Linked DNA regions of Homo sapiens. The protein of the gene in region 1 interacts with the protein of each later gene in a pairwise test. Each region holds a gene or a part of one and is shown in the gene's direction. Other genes may lie near its edges.

Region 1 (8,869 bases):
GTAATTATATCAGTCTTTAAGTTGTAATGCTTTCCCCAAAATGTATCACTATTATAATATCTAGTTTTATGCTTATAATAAAGCGACAGTTTCTGTCATAAACATCTGCTGGTCGTTTTCTTAGTCCTCTTCCTTGTTTTCAGATGGGCACTCATAGTAACCCATTTAGCAGATTGTACATTCTCTCTTTTTTTTTTTTTTTTTGAGACTGAGTTTTGCTCTTGTTGCCCAGGCTGGAGTGCAATGGGGTGATCTTGGCTCACTGCAACCTCTGCCTCCCAGGTTCAAGCGATTCTCCTGCCTCAGCCTCCTGAGTAGCTAGGATTACAGGCGCACACCACCATGCCCAGCTAATTTTTTGTATTTTTAGTAGAGATGGGGTTTCACCATGTTGGCCAGGCTGGTCTCGAACTCCTGACCTTGTGATCCACCTGTCTTGGCCTCCCAAAGTGCTGGGATTACAGGTGCGAGCCACTGCACCTGGCCTGTACATTCTTTGAAAAGGATATCATAATAAATTATTATATAGTAAAAATTAACCAGACTGTTCTAAGAAATGGAATGTAATTAGATTAATTAAATTGTCTGGCTAATTGGGTACTAAAACCGGAAAATCCTTGTTGTTCTTGTTCTTGTTAAAAATACATATGCCAAAAATAATAGAAATGTCCTTTTGTAATTGAATTTTGTAGCACTTGAATAAGCATCAAGGTTTTCCTATAGGTATAGAAGATTTGGTTGATTATTTGTGTGATTCTTTTATGCATAACCTAAATGGTTATGTATACTTGATGTCGAGAATTTGGGAAGTCCTCTAGGACAAGAGTACGAGATGATATTATAAATTCTGTTATGAGAAATGCTATCAAGGGCAACCTTTATCACCGCAAAAAAAAAAAAAAATACTCCCTTAGAGCAATGTCTAGAAAAGAGCAAGTCACATTTTGACTCAGTTCAAACTAATATTGAGTTGTAAGGATTTGGTATATTTTAGTATCTTTTTGGTTTGCTTTTGTTGATTTCTAAAAATCCTATTTCAGTTTCTTAGTATTCTTGAGGCTACAGAGTTACCGAGAAGCATGAAAGATGTCACTATGAACAGTTTCTGTACCTGTATTTCTTCTTATTATAGAAGGAGTAAATCTATTAGCATAAGTTCATCATCTTCTTTAATCCTTTTTTTTCATTATTTTATTTTAAAGAAAAATTTAGGAGGTTCTAGTATTCTTCATGGCTGAAGCTGAGAGAGTCTGAAACCCTGATGCTTAAGCTCCATTCTAGATCATAGCTCCAACTCCTTCAGGATATAAGGAAAAGAGATTATATTTCCACAATGATAGATCTTTGGTTGTACAGGTAAGTTATTTAGTTTTGCAGTAGTGAAGACAGCTATAGTTTGACTTCTTCTTCTTTTTTTTTTTTGAGATGGGGAGACTTGTTATTTTTCCATACATCCTCTGGGTGGCAACTTGTAGTTTGGCTGGCTGTTTATAGGAGTATGGAGCTGCAGGGAATGGGTTAGGAATGAAATATTTCCCTCCCTTTTTTTTTCAATGGGGTATAAATGAAGTGACTGATTATGTTGGAATTTTTTACTCAGGAGGCATTGTGAAATTCCTTGACTTCCTTTTCCTGATCGTCTTTTAAAGTGTGTGTTCATTTACTTTTGTCTATCTGTCTGTCTGTCTGTCTGACTGTCCGCTTATCTGCCTGCCTACCTACCTACCTACCTACCTACCGACCATCTGTCATATATCAGTTTCTCTTAATGGGAAAGAAATAAGAAGTCTCTTTATGTAAAACAATGCATAATAGAGTTCCCAGACTTCAAAGAGGTGACTATTTAAGAACCTTAAGTTGAATTGCATGGGTGGGTTACCAGCCAGGTTTTACTCTTCTACTTTTAACATTATAGATATGGTGGTAATTGCACTGCTGAGGTATTGTCTTAAAATAATTATATGACAAACATGGCCTCAACGTTATTAAATAGTTTATGTTTAGACAACTAGAAAAAGAATCATATTGGTTACACTTTCCAGTTGCATTTGCTCTTTTTTCCTTTTACTTTGGTTTGTCTATGTGAATATATTCTGGTATCATGACCAGTTTACTAAAAATTTTTCACTTAATAAAACTAAATATTATGATAATAAATATCAGCTAAACCATTGGTGTGATGGAAGATTGCCAGCTGCTCAATTCCCAAAATAAACTGTACCACTTTGGTGATTATAGTAGGAACAAAAGCTTATAGGCAAGGTCTTTGAAATATCTTTTTGAAATTTCTTTCTCTTAAGTAAATAGCTGGAGAAGTGTGTCATTAGGTGGGCCTTTTTTGTTTAATAATTATTATCTGTTTTAGTTCTTATGCGTACAGTTCTACAGGTATGATCATAGGAGCTGGAAATTTATGACCTGAAATGTAGCTGATAATGCTTCAAAGAGTGTTTTTCAGAATCCTATAGTTATATTTGGGTAACAGTAGATTCAAATTTATGAGAGGGCAATTCAGCAGCAAATATGTGGGTAGGATATGTGAAATTATAGGTAGGATTGAGGGCTTAATATGAATGGACAAGTTGAAATTCGGTTGACTAGTCCTTCTCAGATATGGCCTCCAAGAGGATGAGAATTTATGAAGGTGGGGAAGAGAGGGAGGGAGTCTGGTTAATTCTAGTTACTGACCACACTCTTTTTTCTCTGAATTCTAGAAAGTGCAACCATTCATTATTTGGTAGATAACATATAGGAAAAACTCCAGTGTAGTTGTTAGTTAGATTGCGTTTTGCCCATATGAATATGTTAATTAATGGCTTCCCTTATTTCTAAAACTAGATTGATTGCATTTCTAATTTCAGATGGATGCTGGCTAAGGTTTTTACCATATACCTCTTATTTTGTTAGCCAACAGGGTTATTTCCTGAGATAATTTGTAAATAAGTTCATTTTTATTCCTTAACAATATTTGGCAGAAATATAATTTTGTACTCTAAGCTTCTTTATTGTATTCTTAAGAAACATTTTGCAATGCAGCTAAAATGAGGAAAACAACTGCTTTAGTCTATAATATTTTGCTAAGCTTGGCAAAACAATGTTGAGACTTGGTTGAGATAATACAGACTTTTTATTTTTTATTTTCTAACAGAAAGGGTCTCACTATTGTCCAGGCAGTTCTCAAACTCCTGGGCTCAAGTGATCCTCTTGCCTCAGCCTCCTGAGTATCTGTGACTGTAGGTGCCCCCACTTCCCTGCCCCTGCACCTGGCTAATCTAGACATTTTTGGTCCCTTTTTATTAACTGAATTTTGCACTCAGTTTATTAGATAATTATAGAAAGTGTGTACCTTTATATATGCCTATCCAAAATAGAAAAGATATGAAGAAAAAGGTTAGAACAGAAAAAAATGATCAGAGGGAAGATTAGCAAAATTTTGTTTAACTCTGATCTTAATAATTTTAACCAGTTTATTACCTCAAGTGCACATCACATGTTAATTTCAGGTAAGATTTTTTATAGTCTTCCATTTGGTGCTTCCTTGGTCTTATTTATAAATTTTTTTATTATTAGGATCCAGTAAGAAATTAAAGGGTATTTTATAAATAGTTCTAATTTAGTTTGAAACTTGATGACTATTATCTTATTAGAATTCTGTCTGGGTTCACTAGCCTAAGGCAGTGCTTCTCAAACCCTAATACATACATGAATCACCTAGGAGCCTAATTCGTTGGTAGGTCTGGGGCGGAGCCTCGTATTCTGCATTTCTAACAAGCTTCCAGGAGATGCCCGTGATTGAGCTGCAAGAGCCTGAGGTACCACAAGGATCCTTGTTATAAAACAAGTTCTCTTTCAATACAGCCCAATAGCACAGAATTTGACAATCCTAGCACTAGGGCTTTGTTCTAGTTATTGAGTGAAATAAAAGCATTTTTAGGGTACAGAAGAAATGGAAAGAACCTTAATCTTTTATATTAATCAGTGTTTTCATATTTTATTTAACTTTTGTATTAATCAGTGTTTTCATATTTTAATCAGTGGAATGGTGAAAAATTAAGATAGGCCTTACTATACGTGATTTTTTTTTTTTTTTTTTTTTTTTCAAGACAGGGCCTTGCTCCCATCACCCAGGCTGAAGGGCAGTCACATCACTACACCCTTGACTTCCCAGGCTCAAGTGATCCTCCCACTCAGCCTCCCTAGTACCTGGGACTACAGGCAGGCTTCACTACACCTGGATAAATTTTTTGTATTTTTAGTAGAGACAGGGTTTCGCCATGTTGCCCAGTTTGGTCTCGAATTCCTGGGCTCAAGTGATCCACCTACCTCGGTTTCCCAAAGTCCTGGGATTACAGGCCTGAGCCACCATGACCAGCTTATAGGTGATATTTTATAGTAAAGAATATATGTATAAAAAAAAGGTTTTTAGTACTACTAATAATAGGTTCATTTCATCCAAAATAGTCTCTCTTTGAGAAGTTTGTACTGCAAGGCAAATTTTGCTCCCATTCAGATTGGTGTGGAAAGAAAAGGTTAAGGAAGTCTTATTATTGGAATAATTTAAGAGGTTTTTATGCCCTTAATTGGGATTGCATTTTAAAAAGTAAAGACTAACAGATTCTTTTGTGTGTTTATAAAGTATTTCTATTGTCAGTATTATTTTTGAACCATAAATTATGAGTATAGTTGAATTTACATTAAAGATAATATGTATTAGATTTTGTAGGCATTTTAGTTATTAAATTTAACTTAGCCTTATGCTTTTTTTGTGCATTTACATACATATTTAATATTTAAAAATAAGTAATCTTAACCCTTTAGAGTGCCAGATTTGGATACATGAAACAAGTAAGTTGCTTTTCATGTATTTCAGTTTGTGTTCTTTTCTTTTTATTTTTTTTTGAGACAGAGTCTCGCTCTGTTGCCCAGGCTAGAGTGCAGTGGCGCGATCTCGGCTCACTGCAACCTTTGCCTCCTGGGTTCAAGCGATTCTCCTGCCTCAGCCTCCCGAGTAGCTGGGATTACAGGCATGTGCCACCATGCCCTACTAGTTTTTGTATTTTTAGTAGAGACGGGGTTTCACCATGTTGGCCAGGCTGGTCACGAACTCCTGACCTCAAGTAATCCGTCTGCCTTGGCCTCCCAAAGTACCGGGATTACAGGCATGAGCCACTGCCCCTGGCCAGTTTGTGTTCTTTTAAAACATCATTTGAAGTTTAACTTAAATGTTTTACAATTAAAAGTGGAAAATTATGGGACACTCAGTGTTTGTTACCCATGAAAGAAACAGATTGTAATCTTCATGATAATATATTAGCAAACGATAATTAAATGTCAGCTGTTCTTTTAATGAATCCCCCAAACAATGAAAGTTTACTACTGTAAGAAATGTGTTTCTAAGTTCTGATTTGTGTCTTGTACTTATTGTTCACTTGGTTGCTATGAAATTCTGTAGAACATATAACCATGCTTTAATTCCAGGGCTAGTTTTGTGATTCTTATAAGATTTAAAAAAATTGTTAATTAAAAATTTAAAAGTATGCCATACTTTGAGACAACACTAAACTCAGGCAACTTAAATATTTTACAGGGTACTTTCTCACTTAATTCACTTGTCAGCAGGCAGGAACAGGGAGATTATTTCCTGTAGTGTTTCTTTTTTATATGTGGTAGCATGTTGCTGTGTCTTCTATAATTCTTCCAAACTTTCCACTGTTAGATAGTTCTAGTTGAAGCAAGGAGAAATTGTGTTTGATTTTTAGGGGTAGGAGTCAGAATGGCATTTGGAGGTTTACATGAGAAGGGAGACTGTTGATGACCAAAGGCAGGAGGAAGGGACTGTGAAACTTTGCACTATTGCCACCACTGGCCTCTTTCTCTAACTAATCATCCTGCATCTCATTCAAAGTTAGGAAATAAAATGACAGGGTACCTTGTGAAAACTAAACAGAAGAGGAGTCGGGGAATAGAGACTTCAAATATTAACAGCTCCTTTATTCTGCTTGATGGGAGAGCCTCTGGAAAATATCACCAAATCACTAGTTTACCCAAATGGATCAATCAAGGCATTTTTCTATATCCCTTACATTTCTGTCATATAAACCTCAAGCATCCACACCAGAATACCTGCTCATCTCCCAAACCACACATTAAAACTGGCACTGGCATATGCTATACACAGGAGTTCAAAGAAGGAAAGGGTGGGATTACAGGAGTAGTCTTGATTTCTTAAATGTAAGTATTTGCTTCAGAGGCTTCTTCCCCATTTTCTTTTCTGGTCTTTGGAACACTCCCTTTCACTTGCTAATTTATGGCTTTATTTCTAGAGACTAGGAAGGCTTGGGTTTGCTTTGTTTTGTTCTTAGCCAATGCAAGCTAGCATTGTGATTTTTGTCTATTTAGTTATGAAAAATTATACTGCAATAAAAAATTTTTGGATGCCAGATTATTATTAAGGGATTTGATCTGAAACTCATTTTAGCAAAAGTAAATTAAAAAGAGGAGAGCCTGCCTTTCTGTATACCGGGAACATTTTGAAAGAACACGAGAAATGATTGGAATAGTTTTTTGAAAGATAGCTGCTATATAAGTTCAAGATTATTATTTTATTTATTTTATTTATTTATTTATTTATTTTTTTGAGACAGTCTCACTCTGTCGCCCAAGCTGGAGTGCAGTGGCATGATCTCGGCTCACTGCAAACTCTGCCTCCCGGGTTCAAGTAATTTTCCTGCCTCAGCCTCCTGAGTATCTGGGATTACAGGCGTGTGCCACCACACCTGGCTAATTTTTGTATTTTTAGTAGAGACAGCGTTTCACCATGTTGGTCAGGCTGGTCTTGAACTCCTGACCTCATGATCCTCCCGCCTCAGCCTCCCAAAGTGCTAAGATTACAGGTGTGAGCCACTGCGCCCGGCCGAAGATTATTATTTTAATGACCAAAATGAAATCACATCTTTAGGATAGATCTCTTCTGGGTGTTTTATGCCTGAGAGGCAGATACACAGTGAGGCAGTTATGGTCTCTAGAGCCCTGCCTTGCTACTTACTAGAGTTGTGACCTTGGATAGAATATTCAGAGTGTGCTTTAATCTCATTCGTGAAGTAGGGATGATAGTAGCACCTATCTGAGTTGTTGTGAGACTTAAGTGAGTTAATGTATGTAAGGCATATAGAAAGACTCATGGAACATATTAAGTACTGTATGCTTGTTAGCTATAATTTATATCATTATTGGAAACGTTAAAGAATTTTTATCACATAATTTAATATTGGCAGTTATATAGATAGTTATAGACTGTAATGTCCAAGTATACTTGGATTAAAAAGTTATAGCTTTATACTTTCGTTCTGGGTATATTAACTATTACCTTTTTCTCATTATTTTGTTTACATTTTTGAAGGTTTCCCAATGAGTGGATCATGATGACCGTATTGTAGGGACTTGCCATAGTATGGCTGCTTCCCGATCTACTCGTGTTACAAGATCAACAGTGGGGTTAAACGGCTTGGATGAATCTTTTTGTGGTAGAACTTTAAGGAATCGTAGCATTGCGCATCCTGAAGAAATCTCTTCTAATTCTCAAGTACGATCAAGATCACCAAAGAAGAGACCAGAGCCTGTGCCAATTCAGAAAGGAAATAATAATGGGAGAACCACTGATTTAAAACAGCAGAGTACCCGAGAATCATGGGTAAGCCCTAGGAAAAGAGGACTTTCTTCTTCAGAAAAGGATAACATAGAAAGGCAGGCTATAGAAAATTGTGAGAGAAGGCAAACAGAACCTGTTTCACCAGTTTTAAAAAGAATTAAGCGTTGTCTTAGATCTGAAGCACCAAACAGTTCAGAAGAAGATTCTCCTATAAAATCAGACAAGGAGTCAGTAGAACAGAGGAGTACAGTAGTGGACAATGATGCAGATTTTCAAGGGACTAAACGAGCTTGTCGATGTCTTATACTGGATGATTGTGAGAAAAGGGAAATTAAAAAGGTGAATGTCAGTGAGGAAGGGCCACTTAATTCTGCAGTAGTTGAAGAAATCACAGGCTATTTGGCTGTCAATGGTGTTGATGACAGTGATTCAGCTGTTATAAACTGTGATGACTGTCAGCCTGATGGGAACACTAAACAAAATAGCATTGGTTCCTATGTGTTACAGGAAAAATCAGTAGCTGAAAATGGGGATACGGATACCCAAACTTCAATGTTCCTTGATAGTAGGAAGGAGGACAGTTATATAGACCATAAGGTGCCTTGCACAGATTCACAAGTGCAGGTCAAGTTGGAGGACCACAAAATAGTAACTGCCTGCTTGCCTGTGGAACATGTTAATCAGCTGACTACTGAGCCAGCTACAGGGCCCTTTTCTGAAACTCAGTCATCTTTAAGGGATTCTGAGGAGGAAGTAGATGTGGTGGGAGATAGCAGTGCCTCAAAAGAGCAGTGTAAAGAAAACACCAATAACGAACTGGACACAAGTCTTGAGAGTATGCCAGCCTCCGGAGAACCTGAACCATCTCCTGTTCTAGACTGTGTTTCAGCTCAAATGATGTCTTTATCAGAACCTCAAGAACATCGTTATACTCTGAGAACCTCACCACGAAGGGCAGCCCCTACCAGAGGTAGTCCCACTAAAAACAGTTCTCCTTACAGAGAAAATGGACAATTTGAGGAGAATAATCTTAGTCCTAATGAAACAAATGCAACTGTTAGTGATAATGTAAGTCAATCTCCTACAAATCCTGGTGAAATTTCTCAAAATGAAAAAGGGATATGTTGTGACTCTCAAAATAATGGAAGTGAAGGAGTAAGTAAACCACCCTCAGAGGCAAGACTCAATATTGGACATTTGCCATCTGCCAAAGAGAGTGCC
Region 2 (8,869 bases), about 170 Mb from region 1:
AGGGGCAGAATGCTATGGTTTCAGTGTTTATATCTCCCCAAAATTTGTGTTGAAATTGTAATCCCCAAGATGATGGTATTAGGAAGTGGAGACTTTTGGGGAGATGATCTGGTAACAAGGGCAAAGTCCTCATGAGTGGGATTAGTCCCTCCTAAAAGAGGCCCCAGAGAACTCCCTTGCCCTCTCCATCATGTAAGGACACAGAAGACACCTGTCTTTTGACCAAGAAGTGGGCCCTCACCAGGCACCCAGCCTGCTGGCACCTTGATCTTGGACGTCCAGCCTCCAGAACTGTGAGGAACAGATTTCTGTTGTATAGAAACTGCCCGTCCTACAGCGTTGTGTTGTCACAGCCTCAGTGGACTAAGACTGAGACACCTAGCTCGTCCCGGACTGAGGCATCCCTGTTCTCCTGTGCTTTCAGAGTCGGGTTTCTCCATTCAAGGACATGATTTTATGCTTCTCTGAAGAGGATTGGTCCCTTCTAGATCCTGCCCAGACTGGCTTCTATGGAGAGTTCATCATTGGGGAGGATTACGGGGTCTCAATGCCTCCAAGTAAGACTTAACTTCCCCCCACACCTCAAGACCAGGGAACTGGGCAGGGGAGTTCTCACTTGGAGTAAGAGTCAACTTCGTCCCATAGGATCAGGGAAGCGGGGCCTGCATCAGATCTCTCTGTTCACCCCCAACCTGGACAGGAGGTCATTTGCACACAGCGGCCCTACAGGCAGTGTGTCCGATTGACCATCACCTGCTGTCTCGCCACATCAGGCTTATCAGAACCAAATAGAACATGTGCTGTATGTCCATTTCTCTTCCATCGTTCTTACCGTTTTGTCCCTTTATGTCTGCTTTACACCCGAAAGCCTCAGAGAGACCCCCAAGCCCATAGCTCTCCCTGCGTGTGCTGCCCCCACTGCCCCTGCACTGCCAGCTCTGGCCTTTTCACTTCTCGCCCCTGATGGTGCCATGCCCGCTGGGCATCCCTCCGCCTTCTCTCTTCTGGACCAGCCCTGGTTGCTGCAGGATCAGATTACTAATAAACATGTACCCTGCCTTTTTCTTTGAACAGACGACCTAGCTGCCCAGCCAGATCTCTCCCAGGGAGAGGAGAATGAGCCACGCGTTCCAGAGTTGCAGGATCTCCAGGGCAAAGAAGTGCCCCAGGTCTCCTACTTGGGTGAGTAATGATTCCAGAACTGAGTGGACAGAGTAGGGGGAAGGGTTGCTGGCAGCCGGAGGTGAGCCCACTCTCTGGCTTCTCTCTGCGGCCCCTAATTGCCTTCTTCATTTCCCCAGACTCTATGTGGGTCTTGCATGTCTTGCCTTGTCCCTGACTTTTCATAGAAAGAATGGAGGATCTTAATTTTGCCAGGCATTGGAATTGTACTCCCTTGGCCAAGGACTGGGAAATAATAGGAATGTCTTTCTCCTCTGCCTGTAAGTAACATCTGGTTTGTGCTGACAATGCAGCAGCCCCTCCAGGAGTGAAGTCAGATACTCATGACAAGCCTAGTTGCAGAGGGAGTGTCTCCTAACTGGGCACCGAGCGCAGCCCTTTGAGGTGCCTCACCTGTCTAGTCTTCCCATCTGCCTGGTACAGGGGTGCTGTGAGGACACTGGGGTGTGGGGAGGTGCTGGGGCTCAGCAGCAGCAGTTTCCAGCCCTCCTTCAGGCTGTGTCGCCAGCACTTGCACCCATGATCTCCATGCCATGGTGCTTCGAAGCATCTGCTCCTTCAGGAGGAAATAGCTTTGTACAGAATCATCAGCAGCTCCACACCTTCTTCCCCTTTGGGACCTAGAGCTGGCATGAAGCAGACAAGGTTTTGACACACCATCCCCACCTGGAACAAGCGTTCAGAGACTTGGTGTGGTGCAGTAGCTCCTGTACCATCTCTACCCTGTAGGCTCTGCACAAGCTGTTTGTGCAGGATGTGCGGAGTGTGCAGGAGCCTGTGGTGATGACTATAGAAAACCCACCACAGAAAGTGGGAATAAATATGGGGCTGGGGGAAGTGCTTGTCTCTGGCCATAGAGTGGGTGGAGTAGAACCCGGATCTACGTCGATTCTGTCTAGCGTCAGAGCTCATGTTTGTGGAGTTGGCCCATTTTGCCTTCAGGTTCATTCACTCAGCAGACACTTATTGAGTGGCCACCCCCTGCCAGTCCCCAGGACGGAGCCCAGGGCCGCCCCCAGATCGTAGCCTGGCATCTATTCGGATAGCACCCTCCCAGGTAGTGCTGTAGGTGCAAAACAAATCAATTTTTCCATTTCCTCCTCTGGAAAGACTCTCCAAGTCTCCAGCCATTCCAGGTAGAAGAAAGAAGGAAACGTGAGGAGCTGCAGGTGCCAGAGTTCCAGGCCTGCCCACAGACGGTGGTGCCTCAAAACACCTACCCAGGTAAAGAAGGGTCAGGGAGGTATGGGTTTGTCCCTGTGTGTCTGTGGTGTGTCGCATGAATGTATGTATGCATGTGTGGCATAGGGGATGGTTGTGTTGAATGCATGTGTGCGTGCATACACATGTGGTATATGTGGTGTGCTGCATGTGTGAGTGTGTGCATTCATGGGTGCACCTGTGTGTTGGGGGCATGTGGGTGTGTGATGTAAATGTGCGGTGGTGATGGCATGGGACAGTTAGGAACTGAACCCCTCAGGATCCCCGCCGACCTCTGCTGTGGTGTTCTTAGCTGCTTGCCCTGATTCCGTTGTGCTGGGGTCATTCTCCAGCTCACTCCCAATCCCAGGCTCACCCTCCTTGCCTTTCCCAGGGGCCGGGGAGGGTGTGTCAAAGCAGGGTGCTGCTGTAGTGCTGTTGGTGATGCAGTGAGTGTTTTTCTTCTCTCAGCATGGATGGCCAGCATCCTGGCACAGAATCTTGGAACTGGGATTAAAGAGCAGGTTTCTGGCATACTGAAGCTGCACAGGACTCTTGGAAAGTGTATGTTCCATTCCTGCTTTCAGAGAAATAGCCACAGTGTAGACTCTGAGTCGTCTTGGTAAAAGTCACCACTTCCAGAAGCAGAGGCTACAATACTGCCATCTTTCTCTTCTCAATACAAAACCCAAGCCTCTGATTCTTACCTGAACCCACGTGTCATTGTAGTTTTCTGCAGCTATGGAGACCAACTCACACATATTATCTCTTCTACCTGTGATGCTTTTGAAGGCAAGATTTATGCCATTTTGACCCAGCTCCATGCATCTTGTACTTGGCCCCCTTTCATGCATGGACAAAGGGGCTTTTCTAGTGTGGGAGATCTGAAAGGATGAGATCCTGCTCCACAAGCATGGATGCCCACCCCTGGTTTTCTAAGAAGCCCACCTCTGCGTGCCAAGAGTGATGCATTCATTTGGGGTCCACTTGGAGTTCAAGCGCAGGCCTGATGTTTGTGGTGCACTTTGAATCTTCTCTAGCTTCTTTCTGCCCATAGCATGTCTCTCAGCCCCATCAATATACTTTTAGAAGATGGATGGATGTTCATTTATACACAGGAGTTTTCAACTCCATTCTTCCCTTGCTGGACTCTGACACAGACTGCTCTGAAACAGCCAGAAGCCAAGGGTTGCTACTGAGAAAGGGGAGAGACGATATATTTCAAAGAGTGGGCACTGTACTTATTTTGGTAGCTCCTGCCAGCTTGCCTTCCTAAAAGGCTTTTCCCGCCAGCTGATGCCGGATAGCTGGTGATAAGGTCTGCTTCTCTATATCCATGCCCACGCAGGACACTCCCAGATGTTCAGTTTGTGCCAATCAAATAATGCTACTACATCCGCCACTGAGGTGGAATATCTTTTCTTGTTTATTGTGTTCTATGAATTGCCTAGTTAGTATTCATTTATCCTTATTTATTTATTTTTGCACTCATACTTGTTTTCTTTATGTCCTAAACATTGCACCAGGATTCAGTGATTTACATGATGACATGATTCTGTGCATTGTATCTTCATGGCACCTTCTGAGATAGGTGGCATGATGTCTCTGTATTGCAGCTGGGGCACCCGAGAGCTGAAGTCACTTGCCCAGAGTCCAGTGCTCACAAGCTGTAGGTGGTGGAGTGAAGATTTGAACTCAGGCTGGGCGCAGTGGTTCATGCCTGTAATCTCAGCACTTTGGGAGGCCGAGGCGGGCAGATCGCCTGAGGTTAGGAGTTCAAGACCAGCCTGGCCAACATGGCGAAACCTGTCTCTACTAAAAATACAAAAATTAGCCAGGCACAGTGGCAGACACCTGTAGTCTCAGCTACTGGGGAGGCTCAGGCAGGAGAATCGCTTGAACCTGGGAGGTCAAGGCTGCAGAAATCATGACACTGCACTCCAGTCTGGACAACAGAGCGAGAGTCTGTCTCCAAAAAAAAAAAGAAAAAGAAAAAAAAAACGGCCAGGTGCAGTGGCTCACGCCTGTAATCCCAGCACATTGAGAGGCTGAGGCAGGCAGATCGCTGAGGTCAGGAGTTCAAGACCAGCCTGGCCAATATGGCGAAACCCCATCTCCACTAAAAAATATAAAAATTAACCAGGCGTGGTGGTGGGCACCTATAATCCCAGCTGCTTGGGAGGCTGAGGCAGAGAGAATTGCTTGAACTCAGGAGGTAGAGGTTGCAGTGAGCCAAGATCACGCCACTGCGCTCCAGCCTGGGACACGGAGCAAGACTCCATCTTAAAAAAAAAAAAAAAGATTTGAACTCAGGCTGTCAGGCTTCAGACCCATGGCTTTTACTCTACATTACCAAACCACGGTTTGCTTTTTCTGTGGATTCATAGAAACTGCCATCTTTCATAGGTTCTTCTAAATACCAAATCCAAGTCTCTGATTCTTACCTGAACCCACGTGTCGTTGTAGTTTTGGGTCTGAATCCCTTGCCTCTGCTGTATTCATACATAGTTTCTTCCATTTCCCTCAACTTTGTTTATGTGTCTTGCAGCATATAAATGTTTTGTTTTGTTTTGTTTTGTTTTTTAAAGATGGGGTCTCTTTATGTTGCCTAGACTGGTCTTGAAGTCTTGGGCTCAAGCAGCCTTTCTGCTTTGGCTTCCCAAATAGCTGGGGAGACTACAGGCGTGTGCCATCATGCCTGGCTTAAATGTTTTCTTACAGTTTTTAACTGTAGGTACACTTATTCGTCATCTTTTTGGTTTTATGCCTTGCTTGAGAAAGCTTCCCCATTCTAACTTTACAAGAATATTTTACAGTTTTTAATAATGCCTTTATCATTTTGGTTTTTCACATCCAGCTTCCTAGTCTCCCCTGCTGTTCCCCTTAATCCCCTCAGCTCGCAGGAAGTCATTCATTCCTGGCCAGAGCATCCTTCCTGAGGCGATAGTCATGGAGTTACCTGCACGCTGCATGCCTTTGCCACTCCGCCTGCAACAAGCACTTGCAGCAGCCTGGCTGCCTGCTAGCTATGTGGCCACGAGCCCTGGTCCCATCTCCACTGGCTCAATTCCCCTGAAACCTTGGGCAATTTCACTTTTCTGCCTTACATTTTTTATTTGGAAAACAGAAATAATAGTTAAAGCTGCCTTGTACAGTTATTGCTAAGGATTAAATGGTTTAATGCATATACTGGCAGTTAGACCAATAGCTCTTTTCTTTTTTTTCAGACGGAGTCTAGCTCTGTCACCCAGGTTAGAGAACAGTGGCGCGATCTTGGCTTACTGCAACCTCTGCCTCCCGTGTTCCAGCAATTTTCCTGCCTCGGCCTCCCACCATATGTGGGAGCCCACCCACCCATATGTCGTCATGTTCACTTAATTACATCTTGAAAGAGCCTATCTTCAAATACAGTCACATTCTGAGGTCCTTAGGGTTAGGACTTCAACATGAAATTTTGGGACAACACAATTCATCCCCTGTAAGACCTCACCCTCAGGACCTTCAAAATTCATGTCTTTCCCACATGCACAATCCATTCACCTCATCCCAACAGCCCCCAAATTCTCAACCTGTTTCAGCATCAACTGTAAGTCCAAAATCTCATCTAAATATCAACATCTCAAATCAGGTATGGGTTAGACTTGAAGTATGATTCATCCTGAGGCAAAACCCTCTCCAGCTATGAACTGTGAAACCAGATGTTTTTTGCTTCCAAAATACAACTGTGAGAAAAGCATAGCATAGACCATTCTCATTCCAAAATAGAGAAATCCAAGAGAAGAAAGGGTAATGGGTCCCAAGCAAGTCTTAAATCTAGCAGGTCAGGGCTAGGTGTGGTGTGGCTCGTGCCTATAATCCCAGCACTTTGGGAGGCCGAGGCAGGCGGATCACCTGAGGTCAGTAGTTCGAGACTGCACTGGCAAAAATGGGGAAACCCTCTCTCTACTAAAAATACAAAAATTAGCCAGACGTGGTGGCACACACCTGTAATCCCAGCTACTCAGGAGGCTGAGGCAGGAGAATTGCTTGAACCCAGGAGGCAGAGGTTGCAGTGAGCCAAGATCATGCCATTGCACTCCAGCCTGGGCAGCAAGAGCGAAACCCCATCTCAAAAAAAAAAAAAAAAAATCTAGCAGGTCATTTCCATGGGATTTTAAGGCTCAGCAATAACCTCTGGCTCAGTTCTCTGTTCTCCAGGCCCAGCAGGCTACTGGCCCTGCTCTTTGGAACTCAGAAGGAAATGACTTCACCTCCTGAGCCTGTACTCTCTGGTCCCATGATGACAGTGGCAGTCCTGTAACCTCTGAGCCACCTTTGGAGTCATTCTTCCCTTTTCTTGAAGGATAGTACATATTCATAGCCAGATAGATCTATCGGCCAGTTTGTAGAATCCCAGAAGTCCTAGCCTTCTTTTATTTCATCCCATCTCTTTTCCTTTCAGTTCCAGCTGGCAGTGTTTCTGCTGGTATATAATACTCAGAAACCCTGCCCTCCATGCAGTCCACAGGGTTGCAGGCCGTCAGACGAGGGTGTCCTCCATAGACCTTCCTGGATAACCTCATCTCTGTTCCTGGCTTCTGTTGAGATGGTTGATTGGATCCGTGAATCATACCCAGAATCTCTTTAACAAATGATGAGCCAGCCACACTCTTGGTGTCTCTCCAGTGCACGCTTTCTTATTTTTTGCCGTATGGATAGACAGAATTTTCCAAATCTTGAAGTCATGGTTCCTTTTTGCTACAACAATTCCTTCTTCAGTTTATCTCTCTCATCTCACGTTTCACTATAAGCGGCAAAAAACTAGTCTTTGCCTTTGACACTTTGCTTCGATACCTCCTCAGCTCAGTATCCGAGTTCCTTACTTACAATTTCTGTTTCCACAGAACAGTTGAATATGGTTTGGCCAAATTCTTTGCCACTTTATAATTGGAGGATCTCCTTTTCTCCAATTTCCTATAACGTCCGTATTTCTACCAGCCACTTCCTCAAGGCTTTTTAAACATGCACTTCAGAACTCTCCTGGCCTCTCCCCATGACCTAGTTCTAAAATCACTTCGACAGTTTTTGGTCTTTGTTTTAGCTGCACCCTACTTCCTGGTGCCAAAGTCTATGTTAGTCTACTGTGGCTACCATAACAAGGTACCACAGGCTGGGTGACTTAAACAACAGAAACTTACTTTCTTACAATTCCAGAAGCAACAAGTCCAGAATCAAGGCTTCAGCAGAGCTGGTGTCTTCCAAGGCCTTTCTCGTCTTGGAGACGGCTCCCATCTTGCTGTGTCCTCACAGGGTCCTTCCCTCTGTTGAAGTCTGCCTCCAGTCTCCTCCTCTTAGAAGACCAGTGATTTTGGATTGGCCCCACCATCTGACTTCATTTTGACTTAATTACTTCTTGAAAGACCCTATCTCCAAGTAATCACATTCTGAGGCTCTATGGGTTAGGGCTTCATCATGTAAATTTTCAGGGGGACACAATTTCGCCCATAACATGCACTGTCTGCTCTCATAATTCCATCTCCTCGCCCAGTTAACAAGTAAGAGATCTTAGCGGTCCACCTTGTCACTTTGTTTTCTTCTTCCACCCAAGTCCATTAACAGAAGTCAACTGCTGATCAAGTACCTTGTCATCGGCAGCCTGGTAAAAGTTACACCTTGCTCTTGTCTCCACCCCATGAGGTCCACAAAGTACATCATACACATGACCTCACCTGCCCCACCAGCAGCTTAGAGCAACGGGCTGCCACTGTCATTCTCACCTTGTAGACGAGATGACCCAAGCTCAGAGAAGCTGTCTGGCTGGAACGAGGTTCCTGCAGCTCGAAAACCAAGAGTCGAGATAAGCGTCAAACATAGCCTCTCGGCGGGCGCAGTGGCTCACACCTGTAATCCCAGCACTTTGGGAGGCTGAGGCAGGTGGATCACCTGAGATGGGTGGCTCGCTTGAGCCCAGGAGTTTGAGACCAGCCTGGGCAACATAATGTGACCCCATCTGTACAAAAAATTAAAAACACATGCACACACACAAACACAATCTCTGTCTTCATCTGATGATTTCCCTCCTATACTACGTGGGTTCTTGGCAGACTCAGTACCCACTCCCAGACTCATGTTCCCCCGACCCCCTTGTGACTGAGGGACAAATGCCCCCTCCGCTTCCACCATTGCCCTTTATCTCTCTGCTCTCCATAGCCTCTGTGTCTTCCTGCCCTGCTTCTGTTTGTCCAACTTCTCCTGTCCTGAGCTGCTCTGACTAGCCAGGGCTCTCCTCCCCACAGTCATGAAGCCCAGACTAACCATGTTCCTACTCTTATCTGGGAGGGCCTGGTTCACTCCCCCCAAGTTCTAGATTTGAGTTCTACATTTCACAGCAGTGAGGAAACAGGCCACCTGTATGGTGGGCTCTGCTCCATAAGCCGGGACCTCAGGCCGGGCTCTGCACTGTCCACCCAGCCCCGCCCCGTGGTTCCACCTTCCCAACATCACAGAC
Region 3 (8,376 bases), on another chromosome or scaffold:
TGTTAACTAGGAAATACACACTTAGGTCATTTGGTGATCCCAAAAACATGGCTTGACTAACATCATATTGGTTTTTCTGGATAGGGGTAATGAAGTTAAATATTTGTTTACGTGGGTGTAATGGGTATTGCCCTGTGAATGCCACTCTAACTTTGTAATTCATGTGCCATTACCCTAAGAGTCTTACCAAGTATTTGTGCATTCTGGAACAATAGAGACAGACTCTCCTATTGTTTGCAGTTACCTTCATAAAAAATTGAAAACAAACAAAAAAATGAGTTTTTTCCTTCTTCTGAAGACAAGTTTACCTTCTGCTTAACAAAATTGTTTCCACTCCCCGTGTGGTATAAAGACAGAGCCCCGTCAGTCCACACTTAGTCGTGTGACTGGTTTGCAGCCCTCTGCTCATTTCCTGGCTTGCCTTCTGCCCTGAGGTGGGTGCACTGTCACCTTGAAATGGCAGTGCAGGGCAGTAGCAGGAAGAACCCAAGCAGGCAAGCTGGGCTTCTGTTTCACTCTAGGTGCCAATAGTCTTTGATTTGTTCCTGTCCTGCCTGGGAGGTGAGATGAAGAAGTTGTTCATTTCTGCTGGTGCTTTTGCTTAAGACACCCTCAGGAGACCTTTTTCCATAGTCTTGTGGGTTGCCTTAGTTAGCAACCCAATCACTAAAAACAAAAGGAACAGAGCTGCAAGAAAAGTGGCTCCTAATATTTGGAGCCAGGTAGTGAGACCCAGAGCACTGGGTTGAAGGGAAATTATTCCCGTGCTATTTTGTAGAGTCTTGTCCTGAGGACAATTAAATAGTCCAGACGGGTCACTAGGTGAGACCAATTTCCTGGTTTGTTTACTCGAGCCTGATAGTTTTTCACCATCCAGCAGTAGGTCACAGTCCTGCTGCACTGTGACCCCAGAGGCCTGCAGAGAGCAGTCCTTTCATAGTTGATTTCCACAGGCTTCCCTAAGGATCCTTGCCTGCCTTTATGTGGTTGGATTGCTCTGTTGTGTCTCTCAGGCTTAGGGTAGAGGACAATGTCAGTAATTACTCTTGACTTCATCTTATGCAGGCATTTGGCTTTATGTCCCGAGTTGCCCTACAAGCAGAGAAGATGAATCATCACCCAGAATGGTTCAATGTATACAACAAGGTAACTAAACTGCCTTATTTGGGAATCACCTTAATTATGGAGTTTAAGAAACTTCTTTCTTCCTTGTCATCTTGTGCAGCTAAATGTCATTGTACTTAAGAAAGTCTTATCCTTTCTCTCAGAATCCCTGTGTATTATTGCAAATTAGTAACACATTTTCAGGTCTGCTCCTAAGAACAGTGAATAAGCTCTTTATTTTCATGCTTGTCTTTCTACTGAAGCTAATATGAGAAAGTTGGGCCAAATGAGGCTCCTGAATTAAACCGGAGTATCAGCCATGCAGATACGTTTCAAAACTTAAGGTAAATTATTGAAAGAAATGGTAGCAAATCAGATAGATATGGCCTCATTTATCTCGTTGAAATATTTTTACTCAAGAACTGTGCTTTGAAAACTATTAAATTTTGTATCCTGCGTAGGAAATGACCTTATTTAAGACAAAGGACAGACTAAAAAGTTTTGAGGGAACACAGTGAGAAGAACCTTGTTCCTCCCAAAGTGTCCTTGCCTTTATGGTCATGCCATTTGAAATGTCTTATCATCTAGATTTCTATGAAGTCTTCTCTGTGAAAATCTTTGAAAAAAGAGAATTTCACAATACTCACGTGACTTAATAGAATAACTCAGAGCACCTTGGTACCAGGCTAAACTTTTCTTTGCTATTTGCTTCTCTTTGCTCGTAATTTTGCTTTTACTTTATAATCAGTTCATCAAGAAACAGCATTCCATCCTTTACTCCCATTTCCCTAATTTAGAAATGTGCTTTTTTTTTTTTTTTTTTTTTTTTTGAGTTGGAGTCTGGCTCTGTTGCCCAGGCTGGAGTGCAGTGCTGCGATCTCAGCTCACTGCAGCCTCCACCTCCCGGGTTCAAGCGATTCTGCTGCCTCAGCCTCCCGAGTAGCTGGGATCACAGGCGTGCAGGGTAACTTTTATATTTTTAGTAGATACGGGGTTTCACCATGTTGGCCAGGGTGGTCTCAAACTCCTGAACTCAGGTGATCCGGCCTCCCAAAGTGCTGAGATTACAGGTGTGAGCCACCATGCCCAGCCAAAATGTGCTTTTTAAACGTTGCTGCTAAGATATTACATTTGATAGCTTGGTTTTTCTCAGTGGCCTGAAAATAGTTGATGTAATTAAAGTAACGAGAGTTCAATTGGAACCTCAGTCTCTCTTTTTATTTAAAGAAACAAGATTTGAGATTCTGGCAGCTGCATTGCCTCTTCATGGAAGAGAACTTTTTATTTCAAGGTGGCTGTTGAGCCAGGCCTAATGTAGACTATGCCCCTGGAGTTCGCTGGGTTTTGGAAATGTTTTGCTTATTCATAATGTAGTATTTTCTAAATCATTTAATCCCCCTAATTCTCAAATATGAATGTTGAATAATAGACTGATTTCTGAACTGCCAAAGGAAAATAACCATGATTTGCTGCTCAGAGTTTTAAAAACTGCTTTTCTTTTTCTTAGGTCCAGATAACTCTCACCTCACATGACTGTGGTGAACTGACCAAAAAAGATGTGAAGCTGGCCAAGTTTATTGAAAAAGCAGCTGCTTCTGTGTGATTTCTTCCAAAATACATGTAAAATCTTGTACACATCTTAGCTGCAATGTATGTTGAAGGAAATTTATGTGAACAAATAGAGTTGTTCTTTTTCTCTTTTTTTTAAGACAGAGTGTTGCTCTGTCGCCCAGGCCAGAGTGCAGTGGTATGATCTCGGCTCACTGTAACCTCCGCCTCCCAGGTTCAGGTGATTCTCCTGCCTCAGCCTCCTGAGTAGCTGGGATTACAAGCACGTGTCACCACGCCTGGCTAATTTTTGTATTTTTAGTATAGACAGGGTTTTACCACGTTGGTCAGGCTGGTCTCGAACTCCTGACCTCGTGATCCGCCTGCCTCAGCCTCCCAAAGTGCTGGGATTACAGGCATGAGCCACCATGCCTGGCTGTTGAATTGTTCTTAAGGCATCATATCTAGAAGCAAAGAAAAAAGAAAAATAACAATTTAAGTTGTGTAAATTGTTTGCCTTTATATATTACATTTGGTAAAATCAGTGCTTAAATACGCAATGATTTAAACTGGAACCTGAGGTATTTTTCATGCTATCTAATCATATACCTAAGATAAACCAACCCAGTTACTTATATTAATAATATTCAGAAAGAGAAGTGGCTTTTTTTTTTTTTTGAGACGGAGTCTTGCTCTGTCACCAGGCTGGAGTGCAGTGGCGGGATCTCGGCTCACTGCAACCTCTGCCTCCCAGGTTCAAATGATTCTCCTGCCACAGCCTCCCGAGTAGCTGGGACTATAGGCACGTGCCACTGCGCCTAGCTAATTTTTGTATTTTTAGTAGAGATGGGGTTTCATTATGTTGGCCAGGATGGTCTCGATCTACTGACCTCGTGATCCACCTGCCTCCACCTCCGAAAGTGTTGGGATCACAGGCATGAGCCACCGCGCTTGGCCAGAAGTGGCATTCTTAAATTCAAGAAATTGGGATGGGGAGTATTCACACATTTTATAACCCAGAAATTCAAGCAATTCTGGTGACTACAAATGCATTGTTTTGGAGAATAGTTGTAAGGTGGAAAAAGAATTAGGAACTCGACAGATAGTGAGTTTTAACTTTAAATAACAATTCTTCTTTTGTTTTGTTTTGTTTGAGACGGGGTCTCGCTCTGCTGCCCAGGCTGGAGTGCAGTGGCAGGATCACGGTTTATTGCAGCCTTAACCTCCTGGGCTCAAGCAGTTCTCCCTCCTCAGCCTCCAGAGTAGCTGGGACTATAGGCAAGTGCCACCACGCCTGACTAATTTTTAAATTTTTTGTAGAGATGGGGTCTCCCATCTTGCCCAGGCTGGCCTTGAACTCTTGGGCTCAAGCAAGCCTCCCACCTCTGCCTCCCAAAGTCCAAGGATTACAGGTGTGAGCCATTGCCCCCAGCCAGTATAACAGTTTGTGTGTGTGTGTGTGTGTGTGTGTGTGTGTGTGTTTGACACGGGGTCTCATTCTGTTGCCCAGGCAGTAGTGTAGTGGTGCGACCATGGCTCACTGTAGTCTTGACTTCTCAGGCTCAAGTGATCCTCTCACCTCAGCCTCCTGAGTAGCAGCGGTTACAGGCATGCATCACCACACCTGGCTTATTTTTAAAACTTTTTTGTGGAGACAGGGTCTTACTATGTTGCCATGGCTGGTCTAGAACTTCTGGGCTCGAGTAATCCTCCTGCCTTGGCCTCTCAAAATGTTGGGATTACAGGTGTGAGCCACTGTGTCATAACAATTATTTTAAAATTTTTATTTATTTATTTTTAATAATTATACAAGATGGAGTCTCACTATGTTGCCCAGGCTGGTCTTGAATGCCTGGGCTCAAATGATCTTCCTGCCTTGACCCCCCAAAGTGCTGGGATTACAGGCGTGAGCCACTGCGCCTGGCCTATAACAATTCTTATGAAGCTAAAGTTGATTTGGATTTTAGCTGCCGTTACTACTTATATAATTAATTAGATTAAACAAGTCACAAAAATTGGATGAGCTATCTTGGTGTGTTTTCTTTACTTTTCTCTTTCAACAGAGAGTTGAAGGAGAGGACAAGTGTCTTGTCTGTGGCTTCCAGGAATGTGTGGCAATATAAGATTTACTGTTACAGCAGCCAACTCACCAAGTCATTATTTGACTTACTGAGTTAAGGAGGAACTAAGGGTCATTTTCCCCCCATCATTTGCATGTTTTGACTCCTGAACTGAGGGTCTACGGCCACTGAAGCTAGAAGCTAGAAGGGTGTTAATCAGTAGTGAGCTCTACTTACTCCATGTGTCACTGACAGATGTAAAAAGGAATATCAAGTAATCTATTATTTAAAAATTGTAATAAGAGTGTTTTTTGAAGGAATTCAGGAATGTACTACTAACGAGATTATGATGCAGGTATATCCATCCATGAAGCATTTGTTAGTCCCTTGAAGCATCATGGTAGTGGAATTTAACATGGATCATCTTTGTAAACCCACCTCTCTTTAGGGGCCAGAGAAATCACTGTTTGTTACAACAAGCAAACCTTTCCCTCTCCATGTCACCCTTGCCCCAAACCTGAGAAACATATGGGAACATGGCACAGAGGCTGAGCTCTCTGAAGCCAGTTCCTGGCTGGTTTTGCTGGCCAGGGAGAGGCAGGTGTGGTCAGTTGCCCTGTGGACATGTGGTGTGCAGGGAGAGAAGAGGGAAAAGAGCCACTCAGGCTCTCTGGCTGCCAGGGGATCCAGACTCTTAGCACTAGAACTTCTGTTTCTTAGAATTCTTCCCAAGGAAAAGACAAAACTGTGTTTTTATAAGCTGGTTTCCTATAGTGTAGATTTGGGACTTTTATACATTTTATTACCAAATATTTTTAGTTAAGTGCTTCAATTTTCAACATTAATTCTTTAAAATTTTCTTTTGAGAATCATCACCTGGATTTACATGAATTTTTTAAGCATGAAAAAATTTAAACATATTCAAAAGTACATGAATAGTACATTGAAGCCTTATATACATATCACCCAGATATAAAAATTACCAAGATTTTGTCCCAGTTGCTTCATTTTCCCTGTTTCCTTCTTTGCTAAAGTATTTAAAAGCAAATCCCAGATAGCTTATCATTTCACCCCTATATCCTTCAGTAAGTTTCTATGGAAAATATGGCCATTTTCTTGTATAAACCACAGTACCTCTGTTTTTTTTTTTTGAGATAGAGTCTCACACTGTCGCCCAGGCTGGAGTGCAATGGCGTGATCTTGGCTCACTGCAACCTCTGCCTCCCAGGTTCAGGCGATTCTCCTGCCTCAGCCCCCCGGGTAGCTGGGATTACAGGTGTGCGCCACCATGCCCAGCTAATTTTTTTTTGTATCTTCAGTAGAGATGGGGTTTCACCATGTTGGCCAGGCTGGTCTCGAGCTCCTGACCTCGTGATCGCCCGCTTAGGCCTCCCAAAGTGCTGGGATTATAGGCATAAGCCACAGCGCCCGGCCCACAGTACCATTTTTATACCTAACAAAGTGATTCCTTGGTACACTTAATACCTAGGCAAAATCAAATTGTCCTGAAGGTCATGAATGTCCTTGGACAGTAATCTGGTTCTAATCGAGGATCTATATGAAGCCCACCAATCGCATCTGGTTGTTGTGTCTCTTTAGTCTGTCAGTCTGGAGCAAGCTCCCCTCCCTTCCTCAGTTCCCCATGTTATTTATTTATTGTAAAAACTGGGTCAGTTGTGCTGTAGAATATTCTGCTTTCTGGATTTGTTTGTTTCTTCCTGTGGTGTCATTTAACTTGTTTTACTATACCCTAAACGGAACCCTTTTCCTCTGTTTTCAGCAGAAGTCTGAGAGGCTAAACTTGATGGCTGTGTTAACATATGTCACGTGTAGCACAGTGGAGAAAGCAGGATATGGCTCATAATGACAGTGGTGAAGACCTGCGAATGAAGTTGCTAGTTATCACCTACATTAGGGTTTGACATAGGTCTATGTTATGGGTCGCTGCATCTGCTGGAACTCACAGACTTTACTATAGAGAATCAAAGATCCCGTATCCGAAGTCTATGGAAATGCTCATGGTGGTAAATTCCAACAGAATGAAACACCAAACTTGCTTAAAGTAACTCACGTTTCAATTTGAAAGAGATATTGTCAAAATTGGAGGCCCCCAGGTTCCTGTCTGTTCCAAATCTTTGCATGATGACAGTGGTTTCTCTGATGTGGTAAGCTTTGGCTTTCTTCTGTTTTCTTTCTAAAAGATCACTGGAGTAGAGAGGAGTTAAACAGACATGACCTTTGACCTCTTGCATGACCTCCACAGATAGCAAACCGGGCCGACACATGGTTGACGATGTCCTTTTCTACAATGAAGTTAATGAAAGTTCTGAAAATAGTGATTACTTTCTGACATTGATAGGATTTAGGAAACCTCTGGATAAATAGCTTAAGCATGGCTGTTTATGTTTTTGCTATAGACAAAAAGCAGCAGCATGTACATTGTATTTGGACACAAGCCTGCCTCGGTTAATATATTGAACTATTGGACCACTAGGGTTAGTAGGGAGCGGTCTGTACACTTTCTGATTCAGCATTCAGAAACATTCTAGGTGGACTCTGTAGCTTTCAGTTTTGTAAAGTTATCAGAAAAACATCGGGAGGGTTTGGCCATCATATGTGAGCTTTGTGTTTCAATGCCAGTTACTCAGGATTAGTAAATTAATGACTGTCCAGAGGACTTCAGGGTCACCAAGCTGCTGCACCTGCCATTGGCTGACTCTCCCCGGCTATCTGTGGCTGAGATGGTGCTGCTTAGGTCACGCAGAGCATGAGCTGCTGCTGAAAGGGCACAGGAGATGGCCCTTGGGCTTCTCATCCCAGGATGCCTGCCCTGCCCACCAATCCATGAGAAGATATGTATGATTTCAGTAGGCCCTGGATCAGCTTGTCACCTCTGGTTTCCTGTTTGCTTTCCACTCACTCAGCTGGAGTTTCATTTCCAGACTAAAGTCTTCATCATTGGCTTCAGAAACAGCATTCATCTGTGGCTGTGCTGATGTAGTACACCAAGAACAACTGGGCTCTTCTCTGTCACTTTCAGTGGGCTACCTTCCCTCACCTCTCCAAGCAGCATGAAAGAATTCTTTACATTTTTAATCTCTTTTTTGTTTTTCCCTGAAAGTATGCTTTGGTGCTTAAAGAGAGAAGTCACAAAAGTATACTACTGAGTTTCCTGGAGATGAAATCCTGTTGTCCCTAGCTATGTGAATGAGCACAGGGATCCCTGATGCCATTATTTTGTATATTCATACGGCACACACTTACTGAGGGCCTTCTGTGTGCCCTAGGGGATTGAGCACAGTGACATATCAGGGCAGGTAGAAACAGATGGAGAGCTGATGCGGGCTGTCTTAGAGCAGCTGCCCCAGGAGGCCCCTGTGGATGGATGTTGGGCAGGAGCCCTGAGACGTTAGGGGCATATAACTAAAGGACATAGCAGGAGTTATAGGAGGAGCTGATCCCTGAGGGAAACAATGAAGACGGAGAAGATGGGGCTAAAGTTTGAATTGTGGGGACATTAATCACAGTGATTCTTAAAACTTTGCTGTTGATGATTTTAAATGGAGAAAATGAGTACGTAAGATGTTATTTCCCAGTTCAGTATATTGGTTGCCCACAAAGTATTTTCCTACCATGAATGGTCATATATACTTGTTGTAGAATA
Region 4 (6,426 bases), on another chromosome or scaffold:
AGGAAAAGTTGAATGAATGGAGAATTGCTTTGTAAGATAAGCTTTCATTGCCCCTCCAAGAAGAACAGTATTTTTGGGAACACGTCTGGTTAGATGTGGGAAGAGTGGCAATGAAAGGACGTCTTTCCTTACTGCAGGGTCTGCTTTTTCTCTAGGAAAAGAATCAGGCTACTCTTGATAAGAGGATGGTGACTTCCATCATCCAGGAATAAAGAATACATTCATCTCCTCAGATTTTCCCCCATGCCATAGGTTCTAATCACCAGCCTCACTGTTTCTGTAAACTAGTTTCTTCTGAGAGCCATCCAATTTCTTCCTTGCTGTCCTCTATTCAGGTGCTGAGAAAGCTCATAACTTTACTCTGGTATAATTTATTTCTTACAGGAAAAGCTGCAGGTAGCCCTGCAGAGGCTGATAAAGGAGGATCAAGAGGCTGAGAAGCTGGAAGATGACATCAGACAAGAGAGAACCGCCTGGAAGGCAGGAGGAGACACCTCCTAAGGGATAATTAGACAGGAATCTGGGCAGGACCCTGGGCTCTATCACAAGGAGACCCCTTCCTCTTTGCTGTGCTAGAATTAACAAGCATAGAAGTCATTTGATTAGGTCTCAATTTAACTCCTTCCCTGTTGGAGTTTAGGGGCTGGAGAGTAGACATATCATAAATCAACACTATATTTGGAAGTGAAGGCATGGAGGGAAATATCTGTGAAAACGCTTCCTGTGAATCCTGTGTTCCATTTGTGTCATCAGGTTTGAGGCTCCAATCCTTCCAGTAAACACCCTGGAGAAAGACCCAGGATTCCCTGTTTAGGGGGTTTCAGTAGGGGGATTTTTTTGTTTGTTTGTTTGTTTTTTGAGACAGAGTCTCTCTCTGTCATACAGGCTGGAGTGTAGTGGCGCGATCTTGGCTCACTGCAACCTCTGCCTCCCTGGTTCAAACGATTCTCCTGCCTCAGCCTCCCGAGTAGCTGGGACTACAGGCATGTGCCACCATGCCCAGCTAATTTTTTGTATTTTTAGTAGAGATGGGGTTTCATCATGTTAGCCAGGATGGTCTCAATCTCCTGACCTTGTGATCCACCCATCTCAGCCTCCCAAAGTGCTGGGATTACAGGCATGAGCCACTGTGCCAGGCCAGGTAGAGGGATTTAAGATACAGAAAGGCAAAGTTGTTCAGGACAGGTGTCTACAATCCAAGCCTCACCCAGGCATCACATTTTGTCTCAGATTAGGCCTCAATAAAACTGACTTGAGTGTATTGCTTTGGGAGGAGCTCAGGTTAAAAAGTAGAAAAACATGGCTTCACCAGAAATTGTGTATTGGCTTTTGCCTCCTATTCCTTTTGAGAACTCCCTGAGGAAAACTGTTCTTATCCTGTCTCCCAGGCTCATACAAAGCAGGCCTTCAACCAGCCAGACTGACTGCCTCTTTCTCTTTTCATTCCCAAGAATTATATCCAGATCGAGAGACAGAAGATTCTGAAAGGGTTCAATGAAATGAGAGTCATCTTGGACAATGAGGAGCAGAGAGAGCTGCAAAAGCTGGAGGAAGGTGAGGTGAATGTGCTGGATAACCTGGCAGCAGCTACAGACCAGCTGGTCCAGCAGAGGCAGGATGCCAGCACGCTCATCTCAGATCTCCAGCGGAGGTTGAGGGGATCGTCAGTAGAGATGCTGCAGGTAAGACTTGGGATGGAGCACCTACGTAAGAGATTAGGGGAAAAACACAGAGGCCGATTTTCCTTCCCTTCCCAGTCTCTAGGCTTTCTTCTGTGTGGTGACATGAAATGGTTCCTTTGGCCCGGCATGCCCCTTTTATGCCCATCATTTCAGGGGTCACAGAGATCATTAAGTGTATGAATGGGAAGGGAAATTCCCATTATTATTCACTTATGAGAGCAGTGTAAAAATTTGAGCTTGGAGAGGATTCTTTGTACCATGAGCATATCAGTTTTAGAACTTTCCCATCACATCAAAAACATTTCTCATGCCTGTTTGCAGTCAATATCTGTTTCTACCTCCACCTCCTGGCAGCCTATCTGTTTTCTGTCTGTATAGAATTGGCTTCTCTGGACCTTTCAATATGAATTGAATTATAAAACATGTAGTCTTTTGCATCTGGCATCTTTAACTTAGCATAATATTTTGAGGTTTATTTATATTGCAGTATGTATCAGCATTTTGCTCTTATTGCTAATACTATTCCATTATCTGAATATATCATATTATGTTTATGTATTCACCAGTTGGTGGCTATATGAATATTTTCCAGTTAGGGACTATTATGAATAATGCTACAGTAAACATTCACTTACATGTCCTCATACAAACATGTTTTCATTTATCTTGAGTAGATTTTAAGAGTGTTGTATGTTGTGGCCGGGCGCGGTGGCTCACGCCTGTAATCCCAGCACTTTGGGAGGCCGAGGCGGGTGGATCATGAGGTCAGGAGATCGAGACCATCCTGGCTAACAAGGTGAAACCCCGTCTCTACTAAAAATACAAAAAATTAGCCGGGCGCGGTGGCGGGCGCCTGTAGTCCCAGCTACTCGGGAGGCTGAGGCAGGAGAATGGCGTGAACCCGGGAAGCGGAGCTTGCAATGAACCGAGATTGCGCCACTGCAGTCCGCAGTCCGGCCTGGGCGACAGAGCGAGACTCCGTCTCAAAAAAAAAAAAAAAAAAAAAAAAAAAAAAAAAAAAAAAGAGTGTTGTATGTTGTTTATGTATAAGTTTTAAGTTGTCGTACTATTTTCCAAAGTTGTTACTCACTTTATATGAGTAACAATACAAAAGCTTATAAAAAGCAATATAAAAAGTTTCTAGGTTCTTCACATCCTTGTTAATACTTGATTATTTCCTTTTTTTTTTTTTTTTTAGTTACAGCCTTTCTAGTGGGAACATAATGGTATCTCAATGCAGTTTTGATTTGCTTTTTCCTAATAACTAACACTGCTGAAAAGCTTATTATTTCCACATGTAGATTCTGTACCTTTTTAAAGAGTTTTTTCTGTTTTACTTTTGGTGCTATTGTAATTTTTTTTTTATTTCAAATTTCAATTCTTCATTGCTGGCACATAGAAAGGAAACTGACTTTAGTATTTTAATCTTGTATATTGCAACCTTGCTATAATTACTTATTAGTCATAGAAGAGTTTTTTTTTTAATGTCAATTCTTTGGCATTTTCTACATGGAGAATCATGTCATCTGAGAATAAAGTTAATTGTTTCATACTCTGCAGTTTGTATGGTTTTTTTTTTTTGGTGTATTTTTTTGGAGACGGAGTCTCTTACTGTTACCCAGGCTAGAATGTGGTGGCACAATCTCACCTCACTGCAACCTTCACCTCTCAGGTTCAAATAATTCTCCTGCCTCAGCCTCCCAGGACTAGCGCACACCGCCACACCTGGCTACATTTTTTTTGTATTTTAGTAAAGACAGGGATTCACTGTGTTGCCCAGGCTGGTCTCGAACTCTTGAGCTCAGGCAATCTGCCCGCCTTGGCCTCCCAAAGTGCTAGGATTAAAGGCGTGAGCCACCGCGCCTGGCCAGCAGTTTGTATAGTTTTTATTTGTCTTTGCTTGTTTTATTACACTAGCTAGGACTTCTAGTACAATGTTCAACAGGGATGGTGAGAGGGGATATCCTTTCCTTTTTTCTGACCTTAGGGGGAAAGTACTCAGTCTCTCACTTATAAGTATGATGTTAGCTATAGGAGTCTTTTTTTTTTTTTTTTTTTTTCAGATTTGTAATGAAGTTGAGAAACTTCCTCTTTTTTTCTTTTTTTTGAGACGCAGTCTCGTTCTGTCACCCAGACTGGAGTGCAGTGGCACGATTTCGGCTCACTGCAAACTCTGCCTCCCGGGTTCAAGCGATTCTCCTGCCTCAGCTGGGACTGCAGGCCGCCCACCACCACATCCAGCTAATTTTTGTATTTTTAATAGAGACAGGGTTTTGCCATGTTGGGCAGGCTGGTTTTGAACTCCTGACCTCAGATGCACCCGGCCGAGAAACTTCCTCTTTATTCCTAGTTTGCTGAGACTTTTTATCATGAATGGTGTGAATTTTGTCGAATAGCTTTTCTGCCTCAGTTGATATAATCATATGATTTTTCTTCTTTATTGATATGGGAGATTACATTAATAATTTTCAAAGATTGAACCAGCTTGCATACCTTGAATAAATCCCACTTACTTGTGGTGCACAATTTTTATATATATTTTGTTGGATTTGTTTTACTAACGTACTGTTGAGAATTTTTGCATCTGTGTTCATGAGAGATACTGGTTTCTGGTTTTCCTTTCTCATAATGTCTTTACTTGGCTCTGGATTAGGGTAATGCTGACCTCATAGAATGTGTTACAAAATAGTCCATCTCCTTTCATTTTCTGAAACAAATTTGGGGAGAATTTTAATAATTTCCTTCTCCAACTTTTGGTAGAATTCATCAGTTTACCAATAAAACCCACTAAGCCTATTTTTAAAGTGTTGCTTAATATTTTGGAGTATTACAGCTGTCTGTTACTGATTACTAGTTAAATTCTATTGTTGCGTAAGAAAACATTTTGTATGAGTTCAATTGTTTACATTTGTTAACGTGTATTTTGTGGTATAGAATGTGTTATAGCTTGGTTAATTTTCAATGTGAGCTTGAGAAGAATAGATATTTGCCTTTAGATGGAATATTCTATGAATGCCATTTAAATCAGTTGCTATATAGTGTGCTGTTCAGGTACAACTGTAGCGGTAATCATTTCCTGTGGCTGCTGTAAGAAATTGTCACAAACTTTATAACTTAAAACCTCATACAAAAAAATTGTCTCATAGTTCTGAAAGCTCAGAGCCCAAAATCAATGTACCAGCAACCACCAGAAGCTAATAGGGAAGCGTGGAACAGATTACAGCAGGGACCAACATTACCAATATCCTGATTTTGAACCTAGCCTCAAGAACTGTGAGAGACTAAATCTCGGTTGTTTAAAAACCATACAGTTTGTGCTGCTACGTTGTTAGAGCAACCCCAGAAAATTAAAACGCCTACCATTTTTCACTGTTTTCTATTGACCGTACTTGCTCTTTGCTTTTTTTTCCCTTCCTCTCTTTTTCTGCCCTCTTTTAACTATTTTGTATTATTCAATTGATTATTTTATATTATTCAATTTTCTTTCCTCTCTTAGCTTATTAGTTATATATTACTAATATACATCACAAATATAGCTATATTAGTTATATATAATATACATAACTAATATATATTAGTTATATATTACATATACATAACGAATATATATTAGTTATATATTACATATACATAACTAATATATATTAGTTATATATTATATATACATAACTAGTATACATAACTAATATATATTATATTATATATAGTTATATATAATATATAACTAATATGCCTAAAGGTATATATATAAATATAACTAATATGCCTAATAATATAACTAATATAACTAATAATAATATAACTAATATGCCTAAAGGTATATATATAAATATAAAACAAACATACAAATATATTTGAAATATAAAAATATTTTAAAAATATAAACTTTTTATAAATATATAAAAATATATTTTAAAAATATAAATAACACTATACATATATATATAAAGGCTTAGTGGTTTCCCTGGAGTTTGCAATATGCATTTACAACTAATCTAAGTCTAATTACAAATAACACTATACCCCTTCACATGTAGTGCAGGTACCTTAGAGCAGAGTATCCTCAATCTTGAGTAACGTTGCTGTCATTCATTTCACTTATCCATAAGCTGTAATCGCCCACTACATTGTTGATATTATTACTTTAAGCCATTATCTTATATATTAGTTGAGAATCAGAAAAACAAAATATTTTATTTACCTTTACTTCTTTTTCAGTGCTCTTTCTCTCTTTGTGAAGATCTGAATTTCAGACATATACTCTTCTTCCCCCTGAATAATGTCTTTTAACGTTTATGGCAAAGTATTTCCTTCATTATTGCGGGACAAAATTTCTGAATATAAAATTCTTGAGTCATGGGTGTTATTCTTTCAAAACTTTAATATTTATTCCACATGCTGAACTTTTACTAGTTTTAGTAGTTGTGTGTTTGTGTGTGTATATTCTTTGAGATCATTTACATACTGAATCATGCTGTCTGTAAATAAATATAGTTAATTTTAAAACTGCAACTTTTATTTTAGATACAGGGAGTATATGTGCAGGTTTGTTACATGGGAATATTGGGTGATGCTGAGGTTTGGGATACAGATCCCATCACCCAGGTAATGAGCATATTACCCAATCAGTAGTTTTTCAACTCACACACCCTCCTCCCTCCCCTAGTGTAGTCTGTAGTGTCTATTATTTCCATATTTATGTCCACGTATGCTCAATAGTTAGCTTCCACTTATAAGTGAGAAC

Evidence for each region.
Region 2: the proteins of ZZZ3 (region 1) and ZNF496 interact in a two-hybrid assay, tested with the Homo sapiens proteins (one large-scale study listed by BioGRID and IntAct).
Region 3: the proteins of ZZZ3 (region 1) and PCBD2 interact in a two-hybrid assay, tested with the Homo sapiens proteins (one large-scale study listed by BioGRID and IntAct).
Region 4: the proteins of ZZZ3 (region 1) and TRIM22 interact in a two-hybrid assay, tested with the Homo sapiens proteins (one large-scale study listed by BioGRID and IntAct).

The regions. Positions count from the first base shown.
Region 1 is NC_000001.11:77,631,936-77,640,804, reverse strand, and holds part of ZZZ3 (ZZ-type zinc finger-containing protein 3), read left to right. Parts: intron 1-1,202; 5' UTR 1,203-1,333; coding exon of another isoform or gene 1,334-1,356; intron 1,357-7,399; 5' UTR 7,400-7,450; coding exon 7,451-8,869.
Region 2 is NC_000001.11:247,302,012-247,310,880, reverse strand, and holds part of ZNF496 (zinc finger protein 496), read left to right. Parts: intron 1-424; coding exon 425-557; intron 558-1,074; coding exon 1,075-1,182; intron 1,183-2,292; coding exon 2,293-2,406; intron 2,407-2,853; coding exon of another isoform or gene 2,854-3,008; exon of another isoform or gene 3,009-4,179; intron 4,180-8,869. UniProt on the Homo sapiens protein: DNA-binding transcription factor that can both act as an activator and a repressor.
Region 3 is NC_000005.10:134,957,975-134,966,350, forward strand, and holds the end of PCBD2 (pterin-4-alpha-carbinolamine dehydratase 2), read left to right. Parts: intron 1-1,065; coding exon 1,066-1,146; intron 1,147-2,611; coding exon 2,612-2,707; 3' UTR 2,708-4,670; downstream 4,671-8,376.
Region 4 is NC_000011.10:5,696,864-5,703,289, forward strand, and holds part of TRIM22 (E3 ubiquitin-protein ligase TRIM22), read left to right. Parts: intron 1-384; coding exon 385-480; intron 481-1,451; coding exon 1,452-1,682; intron 1,683-6,426. UniProt on the Homo sapiens protein: Interferon-induced E3 ubiquitin ligase that plays important roles in innate and adaptive immunity.